2 separate regions of the Homo sapiens genome follow, and region 1 is linked to region 2. The links come from fine-mapping of genetic effects on gene expression. A gene starts in region 2. The other region holds a variant in brackets. All regions are shown on one strand. Distances are between the middles of the regions.

Region 1 (5,379 bases), 28 kb before region 2:
ACGGAGTTTCGCTCTCGTTGCCCAGGCTGGAGTGCAATGGCGCAATCTTGGCTCACCGCAACCTCCGTCTCCCGGGTTCATGTGATTCTCCTGCCTCAGCCTCCCGAGTAGCTGGGATTACAGGCATGGGCCACCACATCCAGCTAATTTTGTATTTTTAGTAGAGACGGGGTTTCTCCATGTTGGTCAGGCTGGTCTTGGGTCTGGGGTACTGTTTTCTTTTATTTCTTTGGTCTCCCACAGGAGAGCGTGAGCTTCGTGAAATTAGGGCTCACAATTCACTTTTATGTTCCTGTGTTCCTTGTGCCAGGCAAACTGCCAGACACATAGTAGAGGTCTCATAATATTTGTTAAATAAGAAAAATGCATCTTTATTATTATTTTCTAACACAGTCCATATAACTATCTAAGGCACACGTTGAGAGTTTCATTTAACTCAATCTGAGATGAGACCAGATTTCCCTAAACTATGCGTGCTTCCAGTGAACCTATTTGATTTCTTGTCTCATTTATTTTATGAATGCATTTTTATTGGCTTTTGTTTCCCCCTTACTAGGGTATTCTCATAGCAAAGAGAAGATACAGAATTTAAGGTAAGAATAATGGAATGGGGTTGGGAAAAGGTGAGAATCTTGGAAGTCCCTACTCTAACATGTCTGATCTTTTCTCTGAGAAATCCTGTCCTGGGGCTTTGAGATCTGAGTTTATACTTCCTTCTTTCTCTAGGTCTAGTTATGAAGTGAAAATGTAACATGCTACTGTGTGTACTTCCTGACACCTCTAGCTTCTTTAGTTCTAAAGTTAAGGTATAGAATTTATCACCCTAATAATACAACATGCTTATTCATCTCGATATTAATGGTTTTTCCACTGAACTGAAACATCAACGGATTGAGCTCCTATTATATCCAGGGTCTGGGCTGCACTTAGGCGTTACAGAAGTGAGCAAGAAACCCAGTATCTGTTCTCAGCATTTCTGTAAACAGCCCAGGCATTTTCAACTTTAGTTTCCTATTAGAATCACCCAGGCACTGAAGTGTACTAATGCAGGGCCAACCCCAGAGCAACTGAATCAGAATCTCTGGGGATGAAGCCTAAGCATAGAAATTGTTCTAAAAGCTCTCCAGGTGATTCTAGTGAACAGTCAGGGCTGAGAACTGCTAGTCTGTTATAGACTCCTGTCTTGACCTTCGTTCCTGATTATACACACCCACACATCCATTTCAAATAGGTATGGCTTACATAACTTACTAGATTTTAGACTTTTAGTGATGTTTGGCACATGAATGGAATACAATATATTTGGATTACAAAAATGATTCTGGGCTAGGTGCTGTGGCTTACGCCTATAAGCCCAGCACTTTGGGAGGCTGAGGTGGGAGGATCACATGAGCCCAGGAGTTCAAGACCAGCCTGGGCAACATGATGAGACCTCTTCTCTACAAAAAAATGGAAACATTAGGTGGAAGGATTGCTGGAGCACAGGAGATGAAGGCTGCAATGAGCCATGATTGTGCCACTGCATTCCCACCTGGGTGACAGAGAAAGACCCAGCATCAAACAAAACAAAACAAAAACCTCTGTCCATTGAATGCTATCTAAAGCATTAATAATTTTTTTTTTTTTTTTTTGAGACGGAGTCTGGCTCTGTCACCCAGGCTGGAGTGCAGTGGCACAACCTCGGCTCACTATAACCTCTGCTTCTCGGGTTCAAGCGATTCTCTGCATTAGCCTCCCAAGTAGCTGGGATTACAGGTGCATGCCACCACGCTGGCTAATTTTTTGTATGTTTAGTAGAGACGGGGTTTCACTATGTTGGCCAGGCTGGTCTCGAACTCCTGACCTCGTGATCTGCCAGGCTCAGCCTCCCAAAGTGCTGGGATTACAGGCGTGAGCCACGGCGCCCGGCCCATTTTTTGAAAATCTAAATGTGTACATAATTGCAGACATCTTGATACTTCACCTAAACTTCAGCCTGCACCTCCGAGAAATAAAAATATTCTCTTAGCTATCACAATGCTGTTGTTATACCTAAGAAAATTAAAATTAATGGACATTTTCTCAATTGTTTCCCCATAGTATTTTATTGCTATTTCTTGGCTTTTCCACTTGTTCAGCATCTGATCAAAGATCATGCACTATATTTAGTTGCTGTCTCTTTGGGAAAGCCTATTCTCTTAACTCTATTCCGTGTTACCTGGGAAATGCTTAACTCAACCGCAACACTTTATTTCCACAGCCTCATCTCTTTGGCCAACCTCCCTCCCTCAGGATTGGCAAATGCAGTAGCAGAGGGAATTCGCTCAGAAGAAAACATCTATACCATTGAAGAGAACGTATATGAAGTGGAGGAGCCCAATGAGTATTATTGCTATGTCAGCAGCAGGCAGCAACCCTCACAACCTTTGGGTTGTCGCTTTGCAATGCCATAGATCCAACCACCTTATTTTTGAGCTTGGTGTTTTGTCTTTTTCAGAAACTATGAGCTGTGTCACCTGACTGGTTTTGGAGGTTCTGTCCACTGCTATGGAGCAGAGTTTTCCCATTTTCAGAAGATAATGACTCACATGGGAATTGAACTGGGACCTGCACTGAACTTAAACAGGCATGTCATTGCCTCTGTATTTAAGCCAACAGAGTTACCCAACCCAGAGACTGTTAATCATGGATGTTAGAGCTCAAACGGGCTTTTATATACACTAGGAATTCTTGACGTGGGGTCTCTGGAGCTCCAGGAAATTCGGGCACATCATATGTCCATGAAACTTCAGATAAACTAGGGAAAACTGGGTGCTGAGGTGAAAGCATAACTTTTTTGGCACAGAAAGTCTAAAGGGGCCACTGATTTTCAAAGAGATCTGTGATCCCTTTTTGTTTTTTGTTTTTGAGATGGAGTCTTGCTCTGTTGCCCAGGCTGGAGTGCAATGGCACAATCTCGGCTCACTGCAAGCTCCGCCTCCTGGGTTCAAGCGATTCTCCTGCCTCAGCCTCCTGAGTGGCTGGGATTACAGGCATGCACCACCATGCCCAGCTAATTTGTTGTATTTTTAGTAGAGACAGGGTTTCACCATGTTGGCCAGTGTGGTCTCAAACTCCTGACCTCATGATTTGCCTGCCTCGGCCTCCCAAAGCACTGGGATTACAGGCGTGAGCCACCACATCCAGCCAGTGATCCTTAAAAGATTAAGAGATGACTGGACCAGGTCTACCTTGATCTTGAAGATTCCCTTGGAATGTTGAGATTTAGGCTTATTTGAGCACTGCCTGCCCAACTGTCAGTGCCAGTGCATAGCCCTTCTTTTGTCTCCCTTATGAAGACTGCCCTGCAGGGCTGAGATGTGGCAGGAGCTCCCAGGGAAAAA[C/G]GAAGTGCATTTGATTGGTGTGTATTGGCCAAGTTTTGCTTGTTGTGTGCTTGAAAGAAAATATCTCTGACCAACTTCTGTATTCGTGGACCAAACTGAAGCTATATTTTTCACAGAAGAAGAAGCAGTGACGGGGACACAAATTCTGTTGCCTGGTGGAAAGAAGGCAAAGGCCTTCAGCAATCTATATTACCAGCGCTGGATCCTTTGACAGAGAGTGGTCCCTAAACTTAAATTTCAAGACGGTATAGGCTTGATCTGTCTTGCTTATTGTTGCCCCCTGCGCCTAGCACAATTCTGACACACAATTGGAACTTACTAAAAATTTTTTTTTACTGTTTTTTGTTTGTTTGTTTGTTTTTTGAGATAGAATCTCGCTCTGTCTGAGTTCATTGTAGATTCTGGATATTAGCCCTTTGTCAGATGAGTAGGTTGCGAAAATTTTCTCCCATTTTATAGGTTGCCTGTTCACTCTGATGGTAGTTTCTTTTGCTGTGCAGAAGCTCTTTAGTTTAATTAGATCCCATTTGTCAATTTTGGCTTTTGTGGCCATTGCTTTTGGTGTTTTAGACATGAAGTCCTTGCCCATGCCTATGTCCTGAATGGTAATGTCTAGGTTTTCTTCTAGGGTTTTTAGGGTTTTAGGTCTAACGTTTAAGTCTTTAATCCATCTTGAATTAATTTTTGTATAAGGTGTAAGGAAGGGATCCAGTTTCAGCTTTCTACATATGGCTAGCCAGTTTTCCCAGCACCATTTATTAAATAGGGAATCCTTTCCCCATTGCTTGTTTTTCTCAGGTTTGTCAAAGATCAGATAGTTGTAGATATGCGGCATTATTTCTGAGGGCTCTGTTCTGTTCCATTGATCTATATCTCTGTTTTGGTACCAGTACCATGCTGTTTTGATTACTGTAGACTTGTAGTATAGTTTGAAGTCAGGTAGCGTGATGCCTCCAGCTTTGTTCTTTTGGCTTAGGATTGACTTGGTGATGCGGGCTCTTTTTTGGTTCCATATGAACTTTAAAGTAGTTTTTTCCAATTCTGTGAAGAAAGTCATTGGTAGCTTGATGGGGATGGCATTGAATCTATAAATTACCTTGGGCAGTATGGCCATTTTCACCATATTGATTCTTCCTACCCATGAGCATGGAATGTTCTTCCATTTGTTTGTATCCTCTTTTATTTCATTGAGCAGTGGTTTGTAGTTCTCCTTGAAGAGGTCCTTTACGTCCCTTGTAAGTTGGATTCCTAGGTATTTTATTCTCTTTGAAGCAATTGTGAATGGGAGTTCACTCATGATTTGGCTCTGTTTGAACTCAAACAAATTTACAAGAAAAAAACAAACAACCCCATCAAAAAGTAGGCAAAGGATATGAACAGACACTTCTCAAAAGAGGACATTTATGCAGCCAAAAGACACATTAGAAAATGCTCATCATCACTGGCCATCAGAGAAATGCAAATCAAAACCACAATGAGATACCATCTCACACCAGTTAGAATGGCAATCATTAAAAAGTCAGGAAACAACAGGTGCTGGAGAGGATGTGGAGAAATAGGAACACTTTTACACTGTTGGTGGGACTGTAAAGTAGTTCAACCTTTGTGGAAGTCAGTGTGGCAATTCCTCAGGGATCTAGAACTAGAAATACCATTTGACCCCACCATCCCATTACTGGGTATATACCCAAAGGACTATAAATCATGCTGCTATAAAGGCACATGCACACGTATGTTTATTGTGGCACTATTCACAATAGCAAAGACTTGGAACCAACCCAAATGTCTGACAATGATAGACCGGATTAAGAAAATGTGGCACATATACACCATGGAATACTATGCAGCCATAAGAAATGATGAGTTCATGTCCTTTGTAGGGACATGGATGAAATTGGAAATCATCATTCTCAGTAAACTATTGCAAGGACAAAAACCCAAACACCGCATGTTCTCACTCATAGATGGGAATTGAACAATGAGAACACATGGACATAGGAAGGGGAACATCATACTC
Region 2 (5,379 bases):
ATTGTACAGTTATGTAACATCTCAGAGCCTTGGCTCCACATCCCTGTCCTGGCTCTCTCTGGCTCATCATTTCCTCCAGTTGAAACACCCTCCACCCATTCTTCTCACATGTCACTTTTTAAGAAATTCTTCCCACCCCCCACATTCCGTCATCAAAATGAATGGTCTTTCCCTATGGGTTTGTGTTTCCATTTGTTTATCTATTCAATTAATAACTTTTTTTTTTTTGAGAAGTCTCACTCTGTGGCCCAGGCCAGAGTGCAGTGGCATGATCTCCGCTCAGGGTAAATTCTGCCTCCCGGGTTCAGGCGATTCTCTTGCCTCAGCCTCCTGAGTAGCTGGGATTACAGGCACCCGCCACCACGCCTGGCTAATTTTTGCATTTTTGGTAGAGTTGGGTTTCACCATGTTGGCCAGGCTGGTTTGGAACCCCTGACCTCAAGTGATCCTCCCACCTCGGCCTCCTTTGGATTACAGGTGTGAGCAACCATGCCTGGCTTCAACACTTAAATTGCCTTAAAGGAGTTTATGGTCTGGAGTTGGGTGCCACACAACACAGTCACTATGTGTGACAATTTAAATTTTATTTTTTTGTTTTTAATTAATTTATTTTTTTGAAAGCTCTGTCATCTAAGGCTTGAGTGCAGTGGTGCCATCTCAACTCCCCGAAGACTGTCTCCTGGGCTCAAGCAATCTGAAATTTTAATTAAAATGAAATTAAATAAAAATTTTTAGGCCAGGCATGGCGGCTCACACCTGTAATTCCAGCACTTTTGGAAGTTGAGATGAGCGTATCACTTGAGGCCAGGAGTTCCAGCCCAGCCTGGCCAACATGGTGAAACTCCACCTCTGCTAAAAATACAAAAATTAGCCAGGCATGGTGGCGCGTGTCTGTAGTCCCAGCTACTCAGGAGACTGTGGCAAGAGAATCACTTAAACCCAGGAGATGGAGGTTGCACTGAGCTGAGATTGTGACACTGCACTCCAGCCTGGGTGACAGAGTCAGGCTCTGTCTTGGAAAAAAAAAAAATTAAAAATGCCTTGGTTGCCTTAGCCACATTTCAAGTGCTCAATAGTCATATGTGGCTAGTGGCTGCTGTAGTGCACGACACTCACACAGAATAACTCTGTAACCAATATTCTACTGGAGACAGAATCGATCCTATGGAATTCAAATTCAAATCCTATGGAATTGTACAGTTATGTAACATCTCAGAGCACTGGCTCCACATCCCTGTCTTGGCTCTCTGTGGCTCATCAGTTCCAGAATAACTCCGTTACCAGAATAACTCCATTACTAAAATTCTACCGGGCAGCACTCTATAGGAGGGAATAGAGACAGACACCACATATATTGCACACACAGATAAAATGGATTAAGGAAAACAAGATAATAATAGTGAGAGGGACTGGTTGGCTACTTTAGATTGAAGGACCTGTGAAAAATGTCCAGGGAGGTCATATTTAAGCCGGGATAAAAATGAAAAGGAAAAAAGTGAAAATGGTGGGGCTGGGGAGCTAGATGGAGAACACAGCCACGGAAAAGGCCTTAGGGTTGAGGCAAGTTGGAAAGAAAGCTCTAGTAGCTGGGGCTGAGTCAGCAGGGGAGAGAGTGGTAGAAGAAATCTATGGGGTAGGTCAGGGCCAGACCACCAGGGCTTCAGTAATTTGAGTAAAGATTTAGGAATTATTATTATTATTATTATTATTATTTTTCTGAGAGAGTTATGAGAGGGTTATAAGTGGGGGAATGATGTAGTCTGATTATATATTTACCTTTACCTCACTTATCCTGATTTCATTAGTTGCTTACTTACCCATGTCCCTGCCCGATTGCACAAGTCTGGATTTTTGACGTCCCTAGTATATTGAGTCATGTCCCATCAGCTCAATATGTTAGTAATAACTGGTTGAATTGAATTAGCTTTTTTTTTTCAATCTTTTTTTCCTTAAGAAACAGGGTCTTGCTCTGTCACCCCGGCTGGTGTGCAGTGGCACAATCATAGCCTCCAACTGCTGGGCTCAAGCAACCCTCCTGCCTCAGCCTCCTGAGTAGCTGGGACTACGGTCAGGTACACAAGGCCTGACTATATTTTTTGTTCGTTTTTTTTGCAGAGAGGGAGTCTTGCTATGTTGCCCAGGTTGGTCTCAAACTCCTTACCTCAGGTGATCCACTTGCCTTGGCCTCCCAAAGTGTTGGGATTACAGGCGTGAGCCACTGTGCCTGGCAAGAAATGAATTTTTATTTTTATTTTTGAGATGGAGTTTTGTTCTTGTTGTCCAGGCTAGAGTGCAATGGCTTGATCTCGGCTCACTGCAACCTCCACCTTCCAGGTTCAAGCAATTCTTCTACCTCAGCCTCCTAAGTAGCTGGGATTACAGGCGCCCGCCACCACCCCCAGCTAATTTTTGTATTTTTAGTAGAGTCGGGGTTTCACCGTGTTAGCCAGGCTGGTCTTGAACTCCCGACCTCAGGTGACTGGCCTACTCGGCCTCCCAAAGTGCTGGGGTTACAGGCACGAGCCACCATGCCCGGTCAAGAAATGAATTTTTAAACGCTGCCATACAAAACACTATGCTGAGATCATCCACTTCCCCATGAACCCTGTCATGAGCTGCAAGATACAGACCACCACTGCCTCCTTGGAAGTTACTGAATTCTTAGACCAGAAGAGGAGTTAATGAAGTACTAGGCAAGCTTACTCATGTTTGTATGGTTTAATGATTAACAGCAGAAGTCAACAGCCCGATTTAACGCATGTGGGTGCTTGACACAGAGCCTGCTATATAGTATTCTCCAAAAACCTCAGCTAGTGCTATTACTGCATATGATGTAGGTTTAGTTTTCCAAGTTCTTCCGTGGCCCTTTTTGCTTATTATATCAATCCTTGGTGGGAGATAGAGGAAGCATTTTTAGTGCTATTTTACAACTGAGGAAATAGAGGTTTGAAGAGAACTCAGGAACTCTCAGGGTTACCCAGCATTGTGAGTGACAGAGCCTGGATCTGAACGTAAGTCTGCTCCAGACTTCTGTTTCCTGAAGCATTCTCTTGAAGTCCCTTGGTAAGGAGGTGTAGTCTGAAGCATGTTGTACAGGAGCATGAAAGGTTAGGCACAGTGATTCACATTCACTCTCAATTTCTCTTGCTAATGGCAAACTTGGCAATATGACTGTTAAGGCTAGGGATAAGTCGTTGTGGCCACTGAGTAGGAAAAGCTCCACGTCCACCAGAGGCCCAGTTTACTCTGAAAAGCAAGTGCATCTCTGCCACTGGAAGGCTGGCATTTGCTCTCGTGCTGCCATTGAGCCACGCTGGTTCTCTGCTTCCAGTTTCCTTTTCTTTTCTTTTTTTTTGTTTTGTTTTTTGAGACGGAGTCTTGCTCTGTCGCCCAGGCTGGAGTGCAGTGGCGCGATCTCGGCTCACCGCAAGCTCCGCCTCCCGCGGGTTCACGCCATTCTCCTGCCTCAGCCTCCCGAGTAGCTGGGACTACAGGCGCCAGTGACCACGCCCGGCTAATTTTTTGTATTTTTAGTAGAGACGGGGTTTCACCCTTTTAGCCAGGATGGTCTCGATCTCCTGACTTCGTGATCTGCCCGCCTTGGCCTCCCAAAGTGCTAGGATTACAGGTTTGAGCCACCGCGCCCGGCCCTGTTTCCTTTTTGTTTGTTCCCCTGATACCCTGTATCAGGACCAGGAGTCAGTTTGGCGGTTATGTGTGGGGAAGAAGCTGGGAAGTCAGGGGCTGTTTCTGTGGACAGCTTTCCCTGTCCTTTGGAAGGCACAGAGCTCTCAGCTGCAGGGAACTAACAGAGCTCTGAAGCCGTTATATGTGGTCTTCTCTCATTTCCAGCAGAGCAGGCTCATATGAATCAACCAACTGGGTGAAAAGATAAGTTGCAATCTGAGATTTAAGACTTGATCAGATACCATCTGGTGGAGGGTACCAACCAGCCTGTCTGCTCATTTTCCTTCAGGCTGATCCCATAATGCATCCTCAAGTGGTCATCTTAAGCCTCATCCTACATCTGGCAGGTAAGTGAGTAGGTGCCCTGGGCGGGAAGAAGGGAGTAGAGGGGGGTTAGAAGCCAGAGAATGGGGTAGGGGAAGGGGAGGGGATGGTGGTGGTGGATTAATGTAGATGTTCTTTGGGTACCGTTGTATGGCTATGAGTTAACTAGTGAGCAGGACCAGAATAAAGTTTTAGGCCAAAGAAATTGCTTAACTGCTGTGAATTACAACATTCATGGCTAAATGAACAAGGCAAGATGCAGCACAGTGTGTCACAGGCTGCCCTTTGTGTTTAAACAAAAAGGGTGTGGTTAGATGTATATGCATAGACACATGTATATAGGAAATAGTGACAGTGGGTAATGTGGGATGGGGGCAGAGGGTGGGAGGTGGAGGGAGAGTTAATCCTTATTGTATTTTTTTGTGCCTTCCGATTTTTTTCAGCCACATTCAATTCTCTTTCTTTCTTTCTTTCTTTCTTTCTTTCTTTCTTTCTTTCTTTCTTTCTTTCTTTCTTTCTTTCTTTCTTTCTTTCCTCTCTCTCTCTCTCTCTCTCTCTTCATGAGGTCTCACTCTGGAGTGCAGTAGGGCAATCTTTTTTTTTTTGAGACAGAGTCTCACTCTGTCGCCCAGGCTAGAGTTCAGTGGCGTGATCTCGGCTCACTGCAGCCTCCGCCTCCTGGGTTCAAGCAATTCTCTGCCTCAGTCTCCCAAGTAGCTGGGATTACAGGTACCTGCCACCACTACCAGCTAATTTTTTTGTATTTTTAGTAGAGACAAGGTTTCCCCATCTTGGCCAAGCTGATCTTGAACTCCTGACCTTGTGATCCACCTGCCTCGGCCTCCCAAAGTGCTGGAATTATAGGCGTGAGTCACCGCGCCTGGCCTAGTTGGGCAATCTTGATTCACTGCAACCTCGACCTCCTGGGCTCAAGTGATTCTCCCACCTCAGTCTCCCAAAGTGCTGGGATTATAGGCGTTAGCCACCACATCTGGCCTAAGTATTTTATTTTGAAATAAACACTTTAATTCAAAACATTCTATGAGATAAGGAAAGAGTAAAATAGACATATCCTAATTTTTAAACACAAATTTCTGGAGTGATATATGCCTTTGGGATTATGGGGGAAAAATAATCTCTCATTATATACTTCTATAACCAAATTGTAATAGCATGCATTATATGTGTAATCCAAAAAAATGATACTAGTATTAGGCAAAATTAAACAAGAATTTCTTGGTGGCCGGGCGTGGTGGCTCACACCTGTAATCCCAGCACTTTGGGAGGCCAAGGCGGGCAGATCACGAGGTCAGGAAATCGAGACCATCCTGGCTAACATGGTGAAACCCCGTCTCTACTAAAAATACA

What was found. PIP is the estimated chance that this variant, and not a neighbour inherited with it, causes the effect. A credible set is the group of variants that fine-mapping cannot tell apart.
Region 1: its variant is the best candidate, but not a certain one, in a credible set for the expression of HAVCR1 in blood mononuclear cells (TOPMed, PIP 0.58).

Annotation. Positions count from the first base shown.
Region 1 is chr5:157,084,155-157,089,533 of GRCh38, reverse strand. It overlaps HAVCR2 (hepatitis A virus cellular receptor 2), which reads left to right. Exons shown (of 7, transcript NM_032782.5): 6 at 557-593; 7 at 2,240-3,702. The coding sequence ends at 2,432. Among named protein-coding and RNA genes, the nearest start is that of HAVCR2, 22 kb to the left of the region's middle. The variant C/G (reference allele first, on the strand shown) is at 3,363.
Region 2 is chr5:157,056,553-157,061,931 of GRCh38, reverse strand. HAVCR1 (hepatitis A virus cellular receptor 1) reads left to right here and starts at 2,816. Exons shown (of 9, transcript NM_001173393.3): 1 at 2,816-3,011; 2 at 3,977-4,034. The coding sequence starts at 3,989.